Linked DNA regions of Homo sapiens. The protein of the gene in region 1 interacts with the protein of each later gene in a pairwise test. Each region holds a gene or a part of one and is shown in the gene's direction. Other genes may lie near its edges.

What was found. The genes of interacting proteins can lie anywhere in the genome.
Region 2: the proteins of KRT86 (region 1) and SHC3 interact in binary tests that used the Homo sapiens proteins (3 or more experiments, as listed by UniProt).
Region 3: the proteins of KRT86 (region 1) and IL16 interact in binary tests that used the Homo sapiens proteins (3 or more experiments, as listed by UniProt).

What each region holds. Positions count from the first base shown.
Region 1 is NC_000012.12:52,269,889-52,277,788, forward strand, and holds the start of KRT86 (keratin, type II cuticular Hb6), read left to right. Parts: upstream 1-4,756; 5' UTR 4,757-4,831; coding exon of another isoform or gene 4,832-4,834; exon of another isoform or gene 4,835-5,189; intron 5,190-5,932; coding exon of another isoform or gene 5,933-6,058; intron 6,059-7,900.
Region 2 is NC_000009.12:89,168,771-89,175,916, reverse strand, and holds part of SHC3 (SHC-transforming protein 3), read left to right. Parts: intron 1-7,146. UniProt on the Homo sapiens protein: Signaling adapter that couples activated growth factor receptors to signaling pathway in neurons. Involved in the signal transduction pathways of neurotrophin-activated Trk receptors in cortical neurons.
Region 3 is NC_000015.10:81,290,781-81,297,926, forward strand, and holds part of IL16 (pro-interleukin-16), read left to right. Parts: intron 1-1,775; coding exon 1,776-2,257; intron 2,258-4,237; exon of another isoform or gene 4,238-4,551; coding exon of another isoform or gene 4,552-4,602; exon of another isoform or gene 4,603-4,668; coding exon of another isoform or gene 4,669-4,740; exon of another isoform or gene 4,741-6,147; coding exon 6,148-6,298; intron 6,299-7,146. UniProt on the Homo sapiens protein: Interleukin-16 stimulates a migratory response in CD4+ lymphocytes, monocytes, and eosinophils. Primes CD4+ T-cells for IL-2 and IL-15 responsiveness. Also induces T-lymphocyte expression of interleukin 2 receptor. Ligand for CD4.

The sequences.
Region 1 (7,900 bases):
TTATGTGGGTTGAGGAAAATTATAATTTCTCCCCTTCAGTAGGAAGCTCTTATTCTCTCCCTGTCCAAACATACTTGTCCATGTTCAAGATGTCAGTCACTTTACTGGATTAAAACATGCATTTAATCTTCTTTAAATACATGTGGATTGAATGAGCTGTAATCAAATCCACATGTTGTGGATCCTAAGGTCATCCTGATTTTTTTTTTTTTCTTTTGAGACAGGGTCTCAGCCGAGTACGGTGGCTCACCCTTGTAATCCCTTTGGAACTTTGGGAGACCGAGGCAGGTGGGTTGCTTGAGCCTAGGAGTTTGAGACCAGCCCAGGCAATATAGTAAGAGCTCATATTTACAGAAAGAAGGGATTGAGGCTGGGTGTGGTGGCTCACACCTGTATTCCCAGCACTTTGGGAGGCTGAGGCAGGTGGATCACTTGAGGTCAGGAGTTTGAGACCAGCCTGGCCAACATGGTGAAACCCCATCTCTACTAAAAATACAAAAAATTAGCCAGGCATGATGGTGCGTGCCTGTAATCCCAGCTACTTGGGAGGCTGGGGCACAAGAATTGCTTGAACCTGGGAGGTGGAGGTTGCAGTGAGCCGAGATCGTGCCACTGCACTCCAGCCTGGGTGACAGAGTGAGACTCCATCTCACAAAAAAAAGAAGGGATTGAGATTAAACCCCAAGATGGAGTCCCTCCTAGTCAGGGTGTCAGTCCCTCGCACAGACTACAGGGAAGCAATGCCATCTTCACCCCTGGAGATGGAGGTGAGAAGAAGCCATCCTCCTGGCTGCTCCCAGCTGGTAGGAAGCCAGTGCTGATTGGAGGTGGGGCTTTTTGGGACCAGCTCCCACCCCGACCAAAGGGTTTAACTTCTTATGGCTGTCTCTGTGCAGGTGTGAGCAGCTCCTTGGTGGGGTTGCCTGTGGGGGCCTCTTGGCCACCTGCACCTGCGGCATCAGCTCCTGTGGGATGGGGCCTGTGGCAGCAGCTACAGGAAGTGTTAAGTTGGCAGAGCTTGAGGATGCACCCAGCCCAGCCTCTCACCCTTGCGAGGGTCCCAGCTGGCCCTACCTGACCTTGTGCAGCCTGGTGGCAGGGCGCCACTGCTTGACCCACCCTGATCCACGTTGTCTGCTTCCCACTTCTTACTTCTTGTTGTGTGGGAATCTCTCTTCCTTGGCCCCTGCTGCCCTCAAGCTGAGAAAGGCTATTGAGAGGAGTGGCACGTAGCCCATGGGCATGTTCTGTTTGAGGATTCTGACCTGACTGAACCCACGAAGAGGATAGCCTCTCACCAACCATCTTTCAACCTTCTGCTTCCCTTGCTGTCTTGCTCTTCCCTTCCCTTCTCTGGTCTTCTTTTCCTCCTTGCTTCTTGCCTCCTTTAGAAGGCTAAAATTTAATAGACTGACAATACCAAGTGTGAATCAGCTGAAACTTTTGTGGAGTGTAAAATGATTGAGCAACTTTGGAAAACAGTTTGGCAATTTCTTATGAAGTTAAACATGCACTTATCAAATGATGCAGCAATTCCACTCCTGGGTATTTGCTCAAAAGAAATAAAAGCAGATCTATACAGAGACTTGTACATGAATTTTATAGAAGCTTTATTTATAATAGCCCTAAATTGGAAACAACCCAAATGTGTACCAGCAGATGAATGGATAAACAAATTGAGATATAGTCATACAATAAAATATCATTCAGCAACAAAAAATAATGAACTAGATTCATTCAGTGGTGATTAGATTGGAGCATACATCTGTCAAAATTTGTTGAACTGTACTTTTAGAATGTGTGCGCTTTATTGAGATACAATTGTATGCAAATTATATGTCAATTAAGTTGATAAAATAATGATTTAAAATGCATAAGATACTTAGAAATAAATCTAACACATATGTGAAAGACTTACACCTAGAGAAATATAAGCGTTACACAAAATGTTATAGGAAAGAAAAGATAAAGAAGACATAATTAAATGAAGAGCTATACCATGTTCTTAGATAGGAAGCTTTACTATCATGAATATGTTAATTATCCTTACAGTGATCTACAGAGTTGACGCAACTACACTCAAATTCCAAATGAAGATTTACATAATTCTTGACAAGTTGATTCTAAAATTTATGGGGAAGAACAAAGGTCAAGAACAGCTAAGGAATGATGAGAAGGAAGAAATAGGTACTCTCTCTTTCAGGGATTATAATGTATTATAGAGTTATAGTAATTGAGAAAGTATAGTACCCACACAAAAATAGACAAACTGACCAATGGAACAAAATAGCCCCTAAATTTATTTATAAATAAGTAAATGATTTTGTTGTAAAATAGAAGTGGTATGGCAGATCAGTAGTGAAAAGGACTATGCATTGGTTAACCACATGTAAAAAATAAAATTAGATCCCTGTTTTCTCTTATACACAAAATCAGTTTCAAATTAATTTAAATTACAAATGTCAAAAGCAAAACTTTAAGAATTTTAGAAGAAAATATTGGAGAATATTTTTCTGACCTTGGTGTAGAGAAGGATTTTTAAACATGTCACATAAAATGCTCAACATAAAAGATTGATAAATTAGATTACATTAAAACTAACAACTTTATTTTTCAAAATAGGTGATAAAGTGAAAAGATAAGCTGTAAACTTGATAATATTTGTGATATATGTAAGTGATATAATAGTAATACTCAGAAATATAAAGAACACTTATAATCCTTTAGAATACAGCAAAAACCCAATAGAAAAAAATGGACAAAAGAAAAGGAAATACACATGTAATAGACATTTAAAGAGATATTAAACTTTAACAGTAATCATGAAAATACAAAGCAAGACCAAAAATGAGATTGCATTATTTAATTGTTGAAAATTAAGACACATTAAAGAGGATACGAATCTTTTTCACATTGCTGAGCAAAGTGTGAATTGTTATAACAACTTTGGAAAATAATTTTATATTATCTTATAAAGTTAACACCTTTATAAGATTCTGACCATCCTATGAGTCAGAAGTTCTGTTTGTAGTTGTATACAAATCCTCACATATGTGCATCGGAGGACATGTAGAAAAATGTTCATGGCACCACCTTTGTAAGAGAAAGAAACAAAACAAAACAGTAATAGAATTACCTAAAGTGTGGTATAGTTACACAATGGAATACTATAAGAATGGAATATTAATATTATAATGGAGGAATACTAGCAACATAATGTTGAATAAAACAAGACCCTGTGTGACACACTTTTTATAAAAAAAGAACAAAAAAACTGAAACAAATATATATTGAGGCATATGCATGTATTTGATAAAGCTAAGAAAAAACAAAGGAATTATATCAACTTTAGGGAAGTGGTTACCTCTGGGGTGGTTAGGAGAGGACAGGGTAGGGAAGGAGCATGGAGCTAAATGTAAATTACTAGTAAGATTTTAGTTTTGGGATCAGTAAGTAGGTTCATGAGTATTTCATTTTCATTATATTATAATAATAAAGTAATATGCTAGTTATAAGAAATAAACTTAAAACATGAGGACATAAGTTGAAAGTAAAAGAATGTGTTAAGGTGATTGGTTAGATCAGATTGCCTTACACATAGTAGAAGTAAATGATTTTTCCATGAAACTTATTTCAGTAGATGTGGTGTATTTGTACGTAGGTAGTGATTCATGATACAACATATATTTCTTATTTAGAGTTGAGGTTAAAAAACAGTTTGACAACTAGTACCCCAAAGAACCTCTTGTTGAGGTCCACCAGCAGATATGTACAAGAAAGTTCATGGCAGCATTGTTTGTTACAACAAAAACAAAAAACACATGTGCTACCTATAGGAAAATAGAGATATATGTATATGTGTGTGTCTATATCTGTATCTATCTATATATATGTAGTCATACTTTGGAATACTATACAACACTGAGAAATAAAACTACATGCATCAAAAAGATGAATCTCAAAACTAGTATGTTGAGGAGGAAAAAGCAAGTCATAGAAATGTACAAGGTGTAATTCTATTTATATAAAACTTAAAGGTAGGCAAAACTCAACACTAGTTTATGGATACACGTTATGACATAGTAATAAAGAAAAGCAAGGGAATGACCAATATAAAAACTCAGGACAGTGGTTACTTTGGGGATCAGATGGGGTTGGAGATGGATCAGCAAAAATCCCGCAGGGGGCTTTGAAGGTACTGGTGGGTACACAAGGATTTGTTTTATTATTGTTGCTATTGAAATCAATAAATGTAGGTTTTGCATACTCTTTTGCATATATGAGAAATTTATAAAACAAAAAGAAAATGCTGACCACAGCTTGTGCTCTCTAGCCCCTACTCATTCCTACAGGTTAAAGTCATTGCCCTACCCAAGATTTCCTACCAAGTCTTGGGACTGGCATCCCCAGTCCCAATTTCTTGCCCTCCTGTCAATCTTCTGCACTGCTTCTAGACAATCACATCTCATGTCAGGCCACTGTCCTGCTCAGACACCCTCTGTGGCTCCCCAGTGCCCATCCATAAGCCTAAGCTCCTCAGCTCCACACATTTCCTCCACCTGAGGTAGCCTTCCCCTCCTCCACTTTCCTTTAAGTTCCACTTCAGCCCAGAAACTTCCATTTTCCCACCTGGGGTCAGAGTATGGCCCTCTTCTACCCTATGCCCCTGAGGCCTCCTGGGCAGAACTCTGTGATTGTAATGAGATGAGGTCACAGAGCCCCCAGGAAGAAGAGGCCCTAGTCCTCAGTGGCAAGGATTCTGGTAGCTCTTGGGCTGAAGCTGGGCTTTGGTGCTCAAGAGAGGCTTGGAGGAGACCACAGTTCTTTCTCCATGGTGAGACTCATACACGTGGCTCCCTGGTCACACAGGGATGAGGTGTCTTGGACTTCACCCAGATCTGTTGGGCATACAGCTTTTGGGAACAGGAGCAGAAAAGTTGGGGGCAGTGGGAACACAGCAGAAATTGAGATGATGTTTTGAGGTCTGTTCCCCCACACTCCATCTGCCCTAGAAGAAAGTTTGCAATGGGCTGGTGTGAACAGTTCTTGCTCTCTGGGTTGAGGGGGTGTGTATAACCTTGGTGGAGAGCAAAGAGCATGGGCTTAAAATGTAGTCTGGCTCAACTGTCGGCTGGCAGGGTCACTCACTCCCCTCTTGCACGTGGTGGATGGAATGAGCCCCAGTTTGCCTGAGGAAAGACAATGGGAAAAGTCACATCCATCTGGCCAACTTCATGGGTGGTTGTGAGGCCCCAGTGAGATCGTGGAGTAAAAGCTTGTGAAAAGCATCAGGCACTGTGCAAGTGTGAGTTATTGTTCCCTGGCTATTCGTGTATTGAATGCACATGGGGGCGAGGTGCAAGAAGGGAAGTGGTCCCCTGATTTCATAGACAGCACTTCCCATAGCAGCCTTGGGTTTGGGGAAGAAGCTGGAATCTAGATCACTGTCCCTGGTTTCTGATTAATGGCATTCAAATTAAGGACATTTCTTCCTAATCCTAGATTTTAAAATGTGTTTTTTAAATTAGGAAATATTGAATTTCATTAATTTTTTTTGTACTAATTTAAATGGTTAGATGTTGTAAACTACAATAATCAGTTTCCTAGAGTTTAACTCTCCCTGTTCCTGGGATAAACCCTATGTGATCTTGGTCCCAAAGCTCCCCTCAACAGATCACTGCCCTGTGTTGCTGCCCTTCCTGCCTGAGTTCAGGCTTCCTTTGGCATCTTCTGGCCCCATGGGCACAAGGCAAGCTCACTGTGTTCTTTCAACAACCTTTGGAGATAGGAAAAATGATCACTCCCATTTCACAGATGGAGAAAGGGATGCCCAGAGAAGCTAGGTGACCACTGGTGACAGCAGGTGGATGGGCAGCCCTGTCTGGCCTCCTCACCTCCTGACTACAGCTCCCCTCTGCCGTCTGCTCCACAGTGTGAGGAATTAAAGGCAACTGTGCAGAAACACACGCAGAGCCTGAAGCCCAGCAAGGAGGATCTGAACAGGCTTAATCAGGCCATCCAGTGGCTGACGGTGGAGGTGGGCAGTGCTGAGAGTCAGGTGAGAGGTGGGAGTGGGGGGCAACAGAGTGGCCATGGTGGGATGGTGACCATTATTTATGACAACTGCCCCTCCCCACCTACCCTTTGGATTAGATGGCTACACTTTCTCTTAGTGAATGTCTAAGCATACAGCAGTGCAGCTGCATGCATATATCATGCTTACCTCTGCCTAGGACATTGTGTATTTTATGTAAGTAATGAACATGTAGGTAAATCTGTATGAAGATATATGCTTGTTTGTACATTATTATCTTTTTACTTGTGTATGTTCATTTTTATGTCTGTGTTTTGTTTTTCTCGCTCAGTATTACATTTGAGCCCATCTTCAGAAATTGCAAGATATTACCTAGAAACCCAGTTTTCTGGGTTCTATTTCAAAATGTGAAGATCTGGCAATGTTAAATTATGATTCTCAAATGGCAACATTTGGCTAGAGGAGAGAGGCCTCTATCATCTCTCTCTTCTTCACATGCGGTATAGGCTGCCTGGTGTGCCGCAGTCCCCACCACTCCCAATCCCATCCTTTGGATGTGAGGCAGAGGGTCCCTTGCCATTTATCACTGTCCTGGCTGCAAGTTATTATCCTTGTAGAAGAGAAAAGGTGCTGAGTCAATGTCGCCAGAGAAATGCAAGTCTGAAAATATAAAAGAGGTGCTGGTGATTTCAGGAAATGGGAGAGGGCAGATGTATTTGTGGAACTGGGTACTCCTGATGTATATTTAGCCTTCACCTTTTGATGCTTCCAGCTAGGCCTCTGCAAGCACTTGCATTTGTGAGCCTTAGAAAGGAGCTAGTCCTCCAGGATGTTTTCTTTCTCCCATTCTCTCTTAGCCTCCTCTCTTAACCCACCCACCTCCCAGCCCTCTCACACCCCCGCTGGCTCAAGTCTCACTCCATGGAGGGAAGGGCTTCTGTTCCCGGTCTTTTCTTGCTTTCTGCAGATGCAAGTGTCTCAGGCTTGGAAGGGTATTCATGGAGAGAGATCTCCCTTGTACAGGAATGGGTGACTCTGAGAAGGGATAAGCTGCTGAGGTTCTGAGGGGGCAGAGTGAGTGGGTGGGCCATCATGGTCAGGGTCCCACCAGCCACAGCTGTTCTGGTTCCCCAAGCAGCAAATACACTTCACCAAGGTCTTATTATTTTTCCTCCTGAAGAGTATAAACTCTAGGTTCCCGTGAGGAATGGATATTCTTCTTGCTAGTTTTCCTTAGGAAACAATAACCACAGCATTACATGCCAAAGAGCATTGGATGCTTCTGGGATCCTGGCTCATATTAGGAGTTTCTCCATACTAGACGTAAAAGGCTCTCTCTCAGCCATCCTAGATAGCCGGTTTCAAATCTTCACCCTGAAGGTAGACAGGTGGGCAGGTTCTTTTCATCTTGCCATACAGACAAACAAACACAAGTTTTGGAACAGGTGTGCTCACTCCTTGCAACCATGGACAATCTCCAATCCCTCATTGGCTCTGCAGCCTCAGAGCAAGGTCTGGATCCTTAAGGGGGAAGGAGTGAGGGCCAATAATGTCCTTCTGTCCTTGGTCTACCCTTCGCTCCCTACGCCCTGTGAACTAGAGGAAGTCAAGGACCCGCCAGCTCTGCAGGAGGAGGGTGGCTCTGGCAGCACCAAGGGCAAGCTGGCTTGGCTGGAGGCTGCCCTGCAGCGAGCTAAGCAGGATGTGATGTAGCAGCTGTGTGAGTACTGAGAGCTGTGATCGTCAAGTGGGGCCTGGACTTTGAGATTGCTGCCTGCCACAAGCTGCTGGAGGGTGAAGAGAGTGGATGATGGGTCAGCTGGGAAGTGCTTCAGATGTGGCTGCAGTGAGGAGTGCAGGGGCACA
Region 2 (7,146 bases), on another chromosome or scaffold:
GCGCACATGTGCAAATTCCCGCATTGCCCATGTTGAGTTTAAAACCTCGAACTTATTTTATTGAAAAATTGTTAAACTGAAAACAATCTTAATTTGGCGTTATTTAGAATTTTTGAATAGTTCTACCGGTATCCTTACTTTAAAAGATTTCTGGTAGATAGAAATGGGCCATCTTTATCATATGACTAGATACCAATAGTAAAATATAAAGGTTTAGGGTTTGGGAAAGGATGCATTATTCTCTTTGATATAATTTTTTTCTAAATTAAAAATAAAGCCCCCAAATGTTTTCTAGTTTCCTGGAAAATTTATATACTGTATTATAGATTTTCCCCCTCAAAGAAATACCTACTTACAGGTGATATTAGGATATTGCACATATGAATTATAATTCAAAAATATTTCAACTTAATCTGAGAACAGGGACTGTAAAATACAGAAGTCTGGTGAATTTTGATCATCTAGGAAACATTAAACTATTTGAGCAACAGCTTAGAATGTGAATTAATGAAGGACTTAAAATTTAAACATGGAAGAAGTTCCTGAGCAACAGTAGAATTCAAAGCTCAAAGCATGTCTAATTGGTCCATCATTGAGTTTGCTGCTAAATAACAGAATGGGGCTATGCACACAGAAAGGCTGCAGCTTACTCTGCCTAGAGGTTTATATTCTTTTCAGCTGGGCCTCATTGGCAGCACCTTTTTACTCCCCTAAGTATCTTGACATTTCCTTTTTTCTTTTGGTGACGTAAAAGAAAGAACAAGGAACTATGCTCTTGATAGAAAAGAAAAATCCAACAGCAAAGAACAATGACTATTTTCATTAAATTTCCATTTTAAAAGTATTTGATATTTGGACCTAAAAGAAATACCAATGAGTATTGATTACGGTGCTGCCCACCTTTAAATTATCTTATCCTAAAGTCAAGCCTGGGTAGGACCCCAATCACTCAAGGAGGCTGCTGGTCTTTAGCAGGTTCAAAAGGCAATATCCTGGTCCTCCACCTTCTCTGTCCTCAGATCCACGGTGGGGAAACTGTAGGAAGGAATATGAACAGTGCAGGGGACAGGAGGCAGGGGTTCAGTTTTTAAAGAGCCAGTGGGCCATCTGAAGACAAGCACAGCCTTGACATTCAGCTCTGAAACTGCCTGCTGGAGGGGCGAGGCTGGAGCAGGAAGCAATGCTGTGTGGGCTGCACCGGGTTTGCCTTTGGCCCCAGCGTGGTCCCCAAAAGACGGGCTCCTTCTTAGAGCACATCACAGCACAGACTTCAAAAGGATAAGAAGTGACCATATTTAGAAATGACCCAAGTGCCAAGGGCAAGAATCAGGAGGCCCAATGTAAAAGCAATGGTTTTAGGTGCCCACTGCTCAGAGCTATTCCAACAGCGTCAGCATTCAGTGAGCCAGCAGATTACGCCATTCATAAACACCTGTGAAGGCTCCAGCGAAGTTACATAGGTTTCAGCTTGTGGAGTGTTGTATATTTACTGACAGTGAAAATGGCGAGCTATTTATAGGAGATTTAACGATCAGAAAAGTACTGCATTATTTCCTGATACACTGGACCCTTCCTGATATGCTTCCCTTTTGGAACAAAGCTCTGTTTTTACAAGGACTCTTTAAAAATTATTTTATTACTCCCATTTGTGCATCTAATGATATTTGGGGTGGTATAAATCATTTGCTTTATTTGTAAATGCTCTACTGCCTTTTATAGGTGGTCTTCGTAAATTACATTTACTCAAAAATTTATTCTTAATTTTTTTCACTTGACAAAGTGTATAAAAATATCTTAAATTTTCATTTTCTCAGAGCTGTATTCTTTTGGTAACTGTGAGCAAAGATCATACAAAAGTTATTTTAACTATATTAAAATAACTATATCAATTCTACTATAATATTGTAGAATTTTATTTTACCTCTAGACTGAAAAATTGATTTTGATGTGGAGTTGAACTTTAAAAAGTTGATTTTTTTCTCAAAATTCTTTCGAAATCTTATGATATGGATGGCTTACACGTAAATATCTAAATGGTTTGAAAAATAGTTTAAGAATTTCTTTTGACATTAATATATAAAGTTATTAATTTGATCTGGATAGTGAGTTGTCTCTTTTTATGTGACACAAACATAGATGTGTTAAAGGCACACACACACCACACACATATACACAAACCACACACACACCTCACATATACACACACATATGCACATACACACCATGCACCCACACACAACCATACAGACACTGCACACACACAACACACACACCCCACAGCCCACAGGTAGATGACTTGTGATGACTTTGGATGGGGGCTGTTTTCTTTCTTGTTAGAAAATAGGAAATGTCATATTTCTAGAAATACCCAATTATCTCAGTCATTTCTTTTATATTCATGTTTAAGAAAAAGATAAGCTACGACAAAACTTCCATCCTATAAAGAACAGATGGCTGCTTCTCTGCCTCCGCACGGTGTCTTACCTTTGAGTATATGTCATAGTTTTGAGGAATATATGATTACTATCATTAAAGCAGAGTCCTGGGAACAGAAAGCCTGGGCAGCAAACACGTGAACCCACTTGCAAGACTGGCTTTCCAGCCAACAGGCTGGCCCTGCAGGATGTGCCGGTGCTGCTGGCCTGCAGTGCCTGGCTTAGGGTAGGGGACATTAGAGCAGACACCTGGCCTGGTGAAGGTCCTGGACTGGTGAAAGGCAGGACACCTGGGCTGCAGCTCCACCGCCAGCTTAGTGTGGGGCTAGAGCAGTCAGCTCACCTCTCTGGACCTGGCTGTCCCTGGCTGCAGCAAGTTGAAGGCAGGGTTGTGCTGGGGTTGGTCTCTATGGGTTGGAGGCCTGGCCGAGGCAGAAATGGTGGCATCTGTATTGTTTTTTGCACCAGCATCTAATGTAATTGGAAGAGACGGGCCCAGGGAAGCACACTGCAGTATCAGGAGTGTGCTCACCTGATGGACACCTGCTGGATCACTGGGGCCAGGGCCAGACCCTGCAGTACAAGGATCCAAGTCCATGGTGGGGCTCAGAGGAAAGCAACAAGGAAGAGCCAGCATGTTCAATGAAAATACCCAAGGGCAGTAGAGTTAGTGAATTATTTAATTCATAAATAAAATGGTTTCAGATGCAATGGAAAGAAATGACCAGTTATGTGTGTTTCCTGGGTAAAGGACAAGAAAACAATTTTGCAATTTATCATAAGAGTTCTATAGTATGTGGTGGAAAAATAATATCTTTAAGGTGGGAGGCAGTGAGCATAGGAACAGCCTACTGAGTGGGTGGATGTTGACCATCGTGTGTGTGTGTGTCTGTGTGTGTGTGTGTCTGTGTGTGTGTGTCTGTGTGTGTCTGTGTCTTCGTGTGTGTGTGTGTCTGTGTCTGTGTGTGTGTGATGGGGTGTGGGGATGTGCAGCTGCACAATATGCCTTACAAGTTGGTTTTGGTCTTACAAGTTCATAATTACTCATTTTCTGTTGAGTTAAAAAACAAAACAAAACATTTTGACCCCACTGTGATTTTGCCTCTCCCCTCCCAACCAAAACAACAACAGTGTGACAAGGATCCACTGAGGGTCCACTGGGAGTAATTAATCCATGTCTCCCAGTGCTAGAATTGGTGAATTTTCCCTGAGTGGCCACGTCAGAGTTGCAGAGCAGTCACGGTTATAAATAAGCAGAGTGGCACCAGTTACACTGGGGTCAGAGGGATTAGGCATCCCTATTTGGACCATTTGAACCCCAGTGAGATACCAGGGGCCAAAGGCCATGTTTCCATGGTTACAGGCCATGCTGATCTTCTTTGTCTTTGTGAGGAGAGTTGGTGAGAAGGTGCCGGATATACCTCAGCCCTCCTGTACCACCTGACATGACTGGAAGAGGCACTGCTCTTCTTGGCTGGCGAGCATCTTCTCAGCTCTGGATGGCACCTCTGGCGGGTTTCTTTTTGAGGCAGGTGGCAGCAGTTTAGTTAGATCCATGGATTCTATGATCTATGGATTCTGGGCTCAGACATGCCTTGCTCTGCACCTCAGCTGGTCTGGCAGATACCACTGCCATCTAGTGAAGATTTGGGTTTCTAGCCATGAGCCCAGGTGCCTGTGAGGATCTGCAGTGAAGCCTAGATGCTGGAAGAAGCTGCAGAAAAGGGAAATCGAGGAGACAGCTTGAGCAGGTGCCTTACCCTGTCCATTGGAGCTTCCAGGTGCCTGATGCCTCAGCAGCTGTCTGGATATCTGAAGCTCCTCAAAACCAAGAAGAAAAATGTTCAAAGAGCTCATTGTTATAATGCTGCTTACTTCAGACTTGAAGCCATCCTTGGATATCATCTGAAATGCATGGTTTCCCCGAAGTGGAGAACCCCTCAAAAGAGGCTTTGCTCACTTTCGTCTATTGAATAGGCAGAAAAAGAAGCAAACAGTCCATTCCAAATTTCAAGAATTTAAACTCGTATGAACCCTTCAAACTCTGGAACTTGGCCTTCACCCAGCCTCACATCAGAAGTGCTCTCTACTCTGAGGTCATTCTGACAAACTTCATTTTATCAAATTCCATTAAATATAATTGTTTGGCAATCTACTGACAATAGTGCTTTTTGCTTTGCAAACATTAAAAATTTCCACTGCCACCTGCCCAAATAGAAACTTTCTGTTTTTTTCAAAAAAAAAAAATCAAAATATGGTTCTAGCTCTGTTGACAAGGAATTTACCCCTAAGGTGGTATTTAGCAGAGGTACTGTATACTCTGGGCCTCTTACAGTTTACCAAAGCAGGAGTCACAGATGGCTTTTATTTCTTAAGATAAAATGATGAAAACCTAGTTGTTTTGAGTGTTCTTTGCCTGGAAGACACAGCCCTTCACAATGACTTATTGTCCCTCCGGAAGATGGACAAAATGTAAGTGAATTATGAGGGGTTTGTGTACAATCATCCCTTGAGATCTGAGGGGGATTGGTTCCAGGAACCCCATGGATACCAAAATTCGAGCATGTTCAAGTCCCTGATATAAACTGGTGCAGTATTTGCAAATAACTTATGCACATCTTCCATACACCGTATACTATAAATGTAATATCTCTAGATTACGAATATCTATTATAATGTAAATGCTACACAAATATTTGTTATACTGCATTGTTCGATTTGTGTTATTTTTAATTTTTGTATTCTTATTTTTATCATGTATTTAAAAAAATATTGTCATGAATTTGGAGGGCCAACTGTATTCCATTATTCCCTAGCATATGCACTTGTTTATTTCTGAGATGGAGTCTTGCTCTGTCGCCCAGACTGGAATCCAGTGGCCTGATCATGGCTCACTGTAGCCTTGACCTCCCAGGCTCAAGCGATCCTCCCTCCTCAGCCTCCCGAATAGCTGGGACACAGGCACACACCACCATGCTTGGCTAATTGTTTTACTTTTTGTAGAGATGGGGCTTCCCTATGCTGCCCAGACTGGTCCTGAACTCCTGGCCTCAAGTGATCTGTCTGCCTCAGCCTCCCAAAGTGTTGGGATTACAGGCATGAGCCACTGTGCCAGGCCGACATATGCATCTTTCTAGGATTAAAGTGAGTAGTGCAGGTGTCTCTTCTGGCCATGGTGGGCCCTCCCTGCTGATTTTGACTGCATGAGCTATGCTTCAGGCTGGCAAAAATACAGGTTGGCCCATGCCAGGCACATTGTTTAGTTCCTGGATGTGCCCCTGTGCTGTACCATGTCGAATCCCAAACAGGAGCCCCTCACCACCCAGGATTTAGCGCATCCCTCCTTGCTGCCTCTCCCTCTTGAGTCTTGGTTTGGACGCCTCGGATCTTCCCAAGGAAAAGGCCTCCACAACCCACTCAGCAGGAAAGGCCCCTAAAAACTGGCAGCAGGAGAAAGAGAGCCTTGAGCCCATTTGTCCTGCCCATCCCTGACCTGGCAGGAGGGGTGAGGGAGCCTAACCCGCCTCACACTGATCTCCACCTCCTCCGCTTGCAGCCCTGCCTGTCTTGCAAGGTCACCTGCCAACCTTGTAACATGCCTTGTAAACCACCCTTTTATGAAATTTAAACATTTATTATGAGGATTTTAAAACATACATCATCATAGGAAACATATAAACACAACAAAATAGAGAGAATGGTAAAATGAGGCCCCAGGGACAAATGGCCCGCCACCCAACTTCAACAGCCATCAGCTCAGTGCCATCTGCACCCCACCCCCGCCTTGCACTATTTAGGAGTGGTTTCCAGACTTTCGGGTTTTGCCTGTTGCTCTTCTGTGGACTTGTGTGGGCCTGCCTTTGCCCTGGTGTGGGTCAAGCAGTGGCCTGGATGTCCAAATTCCTTCTAGACATGAAGGCCCTCCTCACGCAGTGGGAATGAGGGCCTCAAGTTGGCACGTGGTGACTGTCCTTCAGGAATGAACTTACAAATGTGTTAGTGGAGCTCTAGAATTGTGCAGGTCTGGGTGGTGCCTCCGCCTCAGTGCTTGGAGAGCACACCATGTTCTTGACTAATAAGTTGCAGCCTTGGGCTTAACAGTGATACCAAATATGGCCAAGTGGTTCAGGGTCCCGTTATGTGCTCAGACGTCCTGGATTTGACTCTGTGGTCCCTGAGAAGCACTGAGAGCTGTGAGGAGGGGCAGGCCTCCTAGTCCTCAGGTGGGGAGGTGGGAGTCACACCTCTCAACCTCCTCTGCTCAGTGTCCGGCAGGGCCTCTTCCAGCATCAGAGGAGCCTTCTGGAAATGGGTGTTCTCCCAAGTTGTTTTTAATAGTATTAGTCAGGGTTCTTCAGAGAAACAGAACCAAGAGTTGCTTATTAAAAAAGAGATTTATTATAAGGAATTGGCTTGCATAATTTTGGAGGCAGGCAAGTCCCAAGATCTGCAGGGTGGGCCAGACCCAGGAAAGCTTATGGTGTCAGTTCCAGTTCTGATGCTGTCCTGCTTGAGACCCAGGAAAAGCCAATGTTTCAGTCTGATCTGAAGGTGGGAAAAAATAGTGTCCCAGCTTGAAGACAGCCCAACAAGAGGAATTCTCTCCTATCCAGGGGAGGGGTCAGGCTTTTTGTTTTATTCAGGCCCTCAACTGATTGGACAAGGGCCACACAAATTGGGGAAGGCCATCTGTTTATTCAGTTTATTACTG
Region 3 (7,146 bases), on another chromosome or scaffold:
GGCTCTCTCCAGCTCCCGGTGGTCTCCACCGTTCCCTTTATCCTGTACCAAGTTGCCATTCACACAATAGCCCCTGCAGGCACTTGAGTTTGCAGCCCCTAGTTTATAATAATAGAATATTAGAAAAACTAACATTTGGGAATATAATTCTGACATTTATTTAATTCTTATAATTCTTATAATAAATCAGAGACTATGCTAATTCATGCATTCACACATAATTTTTATGCAAATTTTATAAGAAAAAGTGAGGCCCTCAGAGACTCTCTTACTCAAAGTCATACCACTAGAGCACAGAGGCTCTGGAATGGAGATCCAGCTGGCTTGACTCCCATGCCTAGCCATTGGGCATTAATCACGTCTACCATGGAACATCCTTATGAAAGAACAACATGCAACCATTGGCACTGATATTGACAAGAAATTAAATGATCTGGGGAAATGTTCAGAGAAAAGAACAGAACACAATTTATTTCAGCTCTGGTTTATTATTTCTACCCACCCAACATGCATATATGCTCGGGAAAGCATGACAGAGAAACTCACCAAAATTTTGACAGTAGTTATTTCTGGCTGATAGGAACACAGGTGAAGTGAATTTTTACTTTCATTCCTTCCTCCTTGTGGCTGAGTTTTCTCTAAGGAGGATGCATTATTTCATGATCAGGAAAAAAAAAAAGAAAACTTTTTATTTAAAGAGAAAGTGAGTTAGGAGCTTGGCTGGCCTTGGTTCTCTCTCATGGGGCTCCTCTGGCTTTCTTGGTCTCTCAGAATGAGCTGGAATTTGAGCAAGAGACTAGATTTCAATCCTCTCCCACCCCTTCAAGCTGTGATTTTAGGAAAGGGGCACCCTTGACAGCTTACCACTAGAGAGAAGGGCCTCTCAAGGATGTGTGGGTAGCCCTAGTGCTGGAAACTAGGGTAGGGGGTACTGAGAACCAGGAAGGGCTAATGGGGAGGGAGGGAGGAAGGTGCAGTGGCTAAGAAATAGCGGCTTTCTGCCCTCACCTCACCCTCAACTGGAAAGAAATAGTGACTTCTTCGTGTAAGATTCAAAGTGCCTTGACAGGTAGTTTCTCTGTCTTTGTTATTGAGCCTCAAAATAACCCCAGTGACTTTAAAATTATCATCCTCATTTTACAGATGCAGAAATGGAGTTGGGTCCCCCAGGAAGCTGACTCTGAGATGGAGTTTGGTCTGCAGGCAGTGTCCTGGGGTTCACTACCTGTGGCAGGGAGGGGAGCAGGCAGGGTAGACAGAGGGAGGACGGAGCTGAGGTGCACACCCAACAGCTTCAGCCAAGCCCTGGAGCTCTGCAGCCAAAGTCCCCATTAGAGTTGTCCTATGTTGGCCAACATAGCTGGGCCTCTGTAACCCTATCTCCAGCAGTCCCTGGAGATGGGCTGCCCCATTGGACAAGGCAGCTGTCTGCAGCTGTGGCAGCCCCTGGAGGGACCCACAGCTGAAAGTAGTCTGCCAGCAGCACTCCCCACAGCTGGGACACCAAGCCCTTCCTCGATGGGTGATCTGGGTGGCATATCTCCATATACATCAGTCATAGGCTCAGAAAGCTTGAATGATTTTCCCAACCCAAAGTCATACAGCTCGCCAGGGACCAACACCAAGACTGCCATACTCCAGATCCACAGTGACTTCAGATAAGAAGCAGATGGCCGATGTGCAGTGTGCTGCCCGTGGCAGTCACAGGTGAGGCCAGGGGGTATTTCTGTTTTCTGAAGCTCAGCTGTGAAGATTCTCTTGTGCTTCCCACACAGGTGTCAAAAGGCTGGAAAGCAGTTGGCACGGGCGGCCCACCTTGGAGAAGGAACGAGAGAAGAACTCAGCACCCCCGCATCGCAGGGCTCAGAAGGTCATGATCCGCTCCAGCAGTGACAGCAGCTACATGTCTGGGTCCCCAGGGGGAAGTCCTGGGAGTGGCAGTGCTGAGAAGCCGTCCTCTGACGTGGACATCAGCACACACAGCCCCAGCTTGCCTCTGGCACGGGAGCCAGTGGTGCTTTCTATAGCATCCTCCAGGCTGCCCCAGGAGAGCCCACCCCTCCCAGAGAGCCGGGACAGCCACCCGCCGCTGAGACTGAAGAAATCCTTTGAGATTTTGGTGAGAAAGCCTATGTCCTCCAAGCCCAAGCCTCCACCCAGAAAATACTTTAAAAGTGACAGTGACCCTCAGAAGAGTCTGGAAGAGAGAGAGAACTCCTCATGCTCTTCTGGGCACACCCCACCCACCTGTGGCCAGGTAAGAGGATGGGTCCACAGGTTGAGTGTTTCCAGGACCAGACTCAAATCTTGAGCATGGGCAAATTAGCAAGTTAGTGTTAGCAGGGCCAGAATGAAAGTTTCTCCTGCTCCACCAGAGAGAAACTGTTGCCTAGGACTCAGCTGAGGACTGACCATGAAAAGATGGGTTTGAAGGTTGACAGATAATTGAAGTCCCAGTCCTGCTTGCTGGCATCTGGGTTCCCACCCATAACACACTGGAATTTAAGGTTCCTTTCTTGTGTCATTTTTCACTCACCATGAAGGAAAAATACCAGGGCCCCTGCAGGGTCTCAGTCTTTGCATGTGGATCTTTGAGTGTCCTGCTTGTAGGGAGAATAGTGGCTTAAATAACTAAAAAGGGGCCTGGCACGGTGGCTCATGCCTGTAATCCCAGCACTTTGGGAGGCTGAGCCGGGTGGATCATGAGCTCAGGAGTTCAAGACCAGCCTGGCCAAGATGGTGAAACCCTGTCTCTACTAACAATACAAAAATTAGCCGGGTATGGTGGCAGGTGCCTGTAATCCCAGCTACGCAGGAGGCTGAGGCAGGGAATTGCTTAAACCCGGGAGGAGTGGCTCCTTCCAAGGGCTATTGTGAGGATTAAAGGTAACCACTTAAGGCAAGTACCTGACAGCATCTCAGGCATATTAGCATTCATTGCCATGATCTTTCCCCATCAGGCCCCTTAAAGCCCTCCTTTCCACCCCTTGCATAAAAGGCAGACTGACTGACAGACAGCTGCTGTGTCTAGAACCATTTTATGCGCAGGCTAACCACACTGAGTACTTTCATGTACATTGTGTCAATTAAATCTTACAACCACCTGATGGTGAGAGTCCCAGTTGTGCAAAGAGGGAACTGAGAAACTCGCTCAAGTTCACATTGCTAGTGGGTCACAGTTACCCACTATGCAATGCTGAGTTTCCCATCCTTACCCAGAAGCTGTCTCCCCCATCACGGAATGGCCCTGCAGGGGCCCTGGCCCTTCCCTTAAGCACACCGTGGGCAGGTGGGAGGGGGCCTCTGGAAATCCCCTAAAACAATCTACAGTGAGGGTTGGCAAGCTTCAGGAGGGGTAGCGGTGGAGACGGGATGTTGAGTAGGAGGGGTGAAAGTGAAGGAGGGAGGAGGAAGCCAGGTTACTAAAAAGGAAGTGCAGTTTTGCAGAGCGCTGGCAGGATGTGGCTGGTTAGCAACACATGATGGAGTTATCAGATGGATCTGTTCTCCCACCCCCTCTTTTAAGCCCATATTTCATTTTCCCTTGGGCCTGAGACCTATGAGTCCAGAAGGGCAAATCAGGAGCAGCCAGCTGAGAAGCCAGTCATTTTGCCTTCCTCCTGGAGGCCCAGAAAAGGAGTGCAGTTGCCACAGCAGGTCTGTCCCAGTGATGCCCTTGGCAGAGCCACATAGGGTCAGGGAATATTCCCGAGTAAGGCGTCTGGAGAAGGAACTGGGGTGTCCTCAGGGAAGCCCAGGCAAGGAACTTCCCACAGGTCATCTTTCATGCCCTGTGTGCCTCAGCAGAATACAGGGCTCCCTCCTGTACCTGCCCCCAACAGCACCGTCTCCTGGAGACAAGGCCGTTCTGCAGCTGCCCTCCTCTGTTTGCTCTGGTCTGTCCCACGTGGCCAGCAGATCCTTCTCCCACAAACATTTCCATAAAAGCAATCAGCACGACATAATTTTATTGGGCACTGGAGAGGCGGGGGTCACAGAGAAAGGATCATAGCACGCAATAGAAAACAGGAAGCAATTTGCTTGAGGTCACTCTCAAAATTTCCTTGACCATTCCTGGGGATTTCTCACTGGATGTTTTCTTCCGTGGCCACAGTGTCCACTGTCTCACTCTCCCACTTTTCCCTCCCTGCAGTCTTTTCTCTACAGGGTCCCAAGACTGTTGTCAAGCTGCTATGGATGACCCCCAAGTCTTTCCCATCTACTCTAATTCAAGGGGACTTAACTCTCACAACCAATATGAACTTTGGGATATTTTCTTCAACAAAAAACTAACATCCCTCTTATAAAAAATCAGCCTAAACTCTCCCCCGTGCTTTAAAAAACTTGCTTAAAAAAACACAACAGGATTTTCGAAGAATCCTTTCTTAGAAAACAAACAAAAAAACCAAACAAAAACGTACTTTCTCCCCACTATGCTGAATCTGCTCTCTCCCTCTTTCCTTCTTTCTCTTCTCCCTCCCTCATCCACCAAGCATGGTTCCAGGAAACACTAGTAAGAGAAAAATTTGTGTAAAATCAAATTTATTTCAGGGGCTAATTCTGAAGTCTCCCATGAAGAGGATGCAATATTGGATGTGTTGATGAAAAGACAAAACACATTTGTGCTGTTCTAAGTTGTAAAGCTGCATTGACTGCAGTTGGTATCACATGTGGCTGCCTGTAAAAGAGCTAACAATTCATGAATGTCAACAGATGTCAACTTACAGAGCTCCCAACCAGGTGAAATTAAATTTCATCCCCATGTAATTTCTCTTGTGGACAAGAGACTTAGAGATCATCAGGCCAATATTTGGAGCTTCTAATGCCATGACTCAGCCTTACTTTTTTTAAGGGCTAGTTCGAGAAGCTCAATGATTCCTTTGAAATTGGTTGATCTCTCAGTATTTCATAATGCTCTCCTAAAGCTCAGTTCTACAGTAGGGAACTCGAGCTGAGGCAATGCTCTGTGAATACACTTCTAACTTTTGTAGACCTTTGCTTCCTCCAAAATGTTTATTGTCAATGTAGATCTTAAATTTCAGGTCATGGATATTTGCCATTGCTTTTTTAGTCCCAAAGGATGCATTTGTTCCTTCCTCTTTCCTTCCTCTCTGGAAGGAAGCCTGCAGCCATGTCAAATGGCCCATCATTACACAAATCTGGAATGAACCGGACGTGGAGGCCACCGCAGTATAGCAAAGCATTTCTCTTGCAGACAATCAAATACAGGTGGCATCATTTTGATGATGTCTGCTTTCTCAATCTTTTTTTCCAGATGGGTATTATGTTTGGTTGGGCTATGTCTCTGGAACACTATTTTTCTGCCTCTCTGCCTGCAAAATTCTTACTCTGTTTATGAAGCAGACAGAAAGTACTTCTCTAGGAAGCCTTCTCCACCTCTGGGATGGAACTGGTCTCTCTGTTTCCTCTGGGCCCTGACAGTACCTTAAGCACACTGTGTGATAATCCAAACTCTTCAAGTATTGCATAGCTATTCAGAGCCTGGTTCATCTTGTCCCTAGGCTGTTTTGGGAGGACCCCAAGGCTGCATCCAGGCTCAGTGGTGGAAACAATTCTGCAACAGATTGAGGATGTCACCCTAGGTGCCACAGAGGGGAGCAATGGCACAGGTGCTGAGTATCTGTCATCTTTTGCAGAACACTTACTAAATATTTGAAGAGTGCTTAACAAGTGACAGCAATTGACAAGCATTTTCCTGAGTGCTCTAACCTTAGGGAACACTAGCTGCCAGGTTTTTTTGCTGCCTTGTTTCTACGCTGCCCTATACCCTCCCGGGGTGGGTAGTTCACCAGATGCAGTTGTAACTGAAGCAATGCCAGTCCCTCCACACTCAAAGCCTTTTGTTCCTATCATAAAGAGTCAGGGTCTTCAAGTATGTCAACAGTATGAGCCCATGACCTGGATACCAGGTTGCTGGAAGTCAAGGGATGCTCTGCATGTCTAGGAGGTGCTGGCTCTGCCACGTCAGCACCAAGGAGAAAAGAATCCTCTTTACATGGCTGCTGATGAACTTCTCACTGAAAGCAGCTCAATATCCGTTTTTCCGTCCCAATCAAAGCGTGTCTCGCCTTCTCACAGCTTGAGGCTACCGTTTTGACATGGTCTCGCTTCCTGTTTACACCACAGGAAGCGAGAGAGCTGCTGCCACTGCTGCTACCACAGGAAGACACAGCAGGGAGAAGCCCTAGTGCCTCTGCCGGCTGCCCAGGACCTGGTATCGGCCCACAGACCAAGTCCTCCACAGAGGGCGAGCCAGGGTGGAGAAGAGCCAGCCCAGGTAAGCTTTCATTGAGATCTTCCAAAAGGAAGGGTCTTTTGAAAAAAGGTGCAGGGATAAGATAAGAGCACAAATTGGCCTGAGGATCAGAGTGCTCTGCATTGACATCACCACTGGACCTGGCTGATCAACAGTCAAGGGTTCCAGGTGCTGGGCAGCAGCACCGTGGAGGTGCTGTCCAGGGTGGGGAGCCTCCTGGGTGGACGGGTGATGCTGTGGGGGTGGCAGCAGGAATGCAGGCCATTCTGGATAATTGGGAGGATGGAGCCCTTGGAAGAGGTCCAAAGACACACCCACCCAGCCATCCTGGGCAGCTACCTCTAGGGTGCCAACATTCCAGTTGCAACAGTCCTGCTGCATTCAGGATTTCTGAGTCAGAGAATGCAACGCCAGAAAAGTATAAATAGCATCTACCAGTGGTCACCTCCTCCATGAGGTGGATAGCAAGGGTGTGTCCACATGGTACACCTGACAATGCTAAGACATGACTTGAATATTTATTTGCTTGCTAGAGAGAGCATAGGACTTGAAGTCAGGGAATCCTGGATCTGTCTGTCATTAGTATGATTCTGAGCAACCTACTTTGCCTTTCTGAGCCCAGATTCACTCATCAGCAATGTGTGGAAGAGCACGTAGACCCCAAGCATATGATGCATTCAGCAAGCACACATTGAATGCTGGCTTCGTGAGGCCCTGTGCTAGATGCTGGGGGGAGAGAGAGAAAGGGATGAGACCAGGTAGTCAGGTCCTGCCTCCAAGGAGCAACTAGTAGTGGCAGGAAATAAACATATAGACTATAAAACATATGACTGTTTGAGTAACACTACAGAAAAGCTCATGAAAGACTT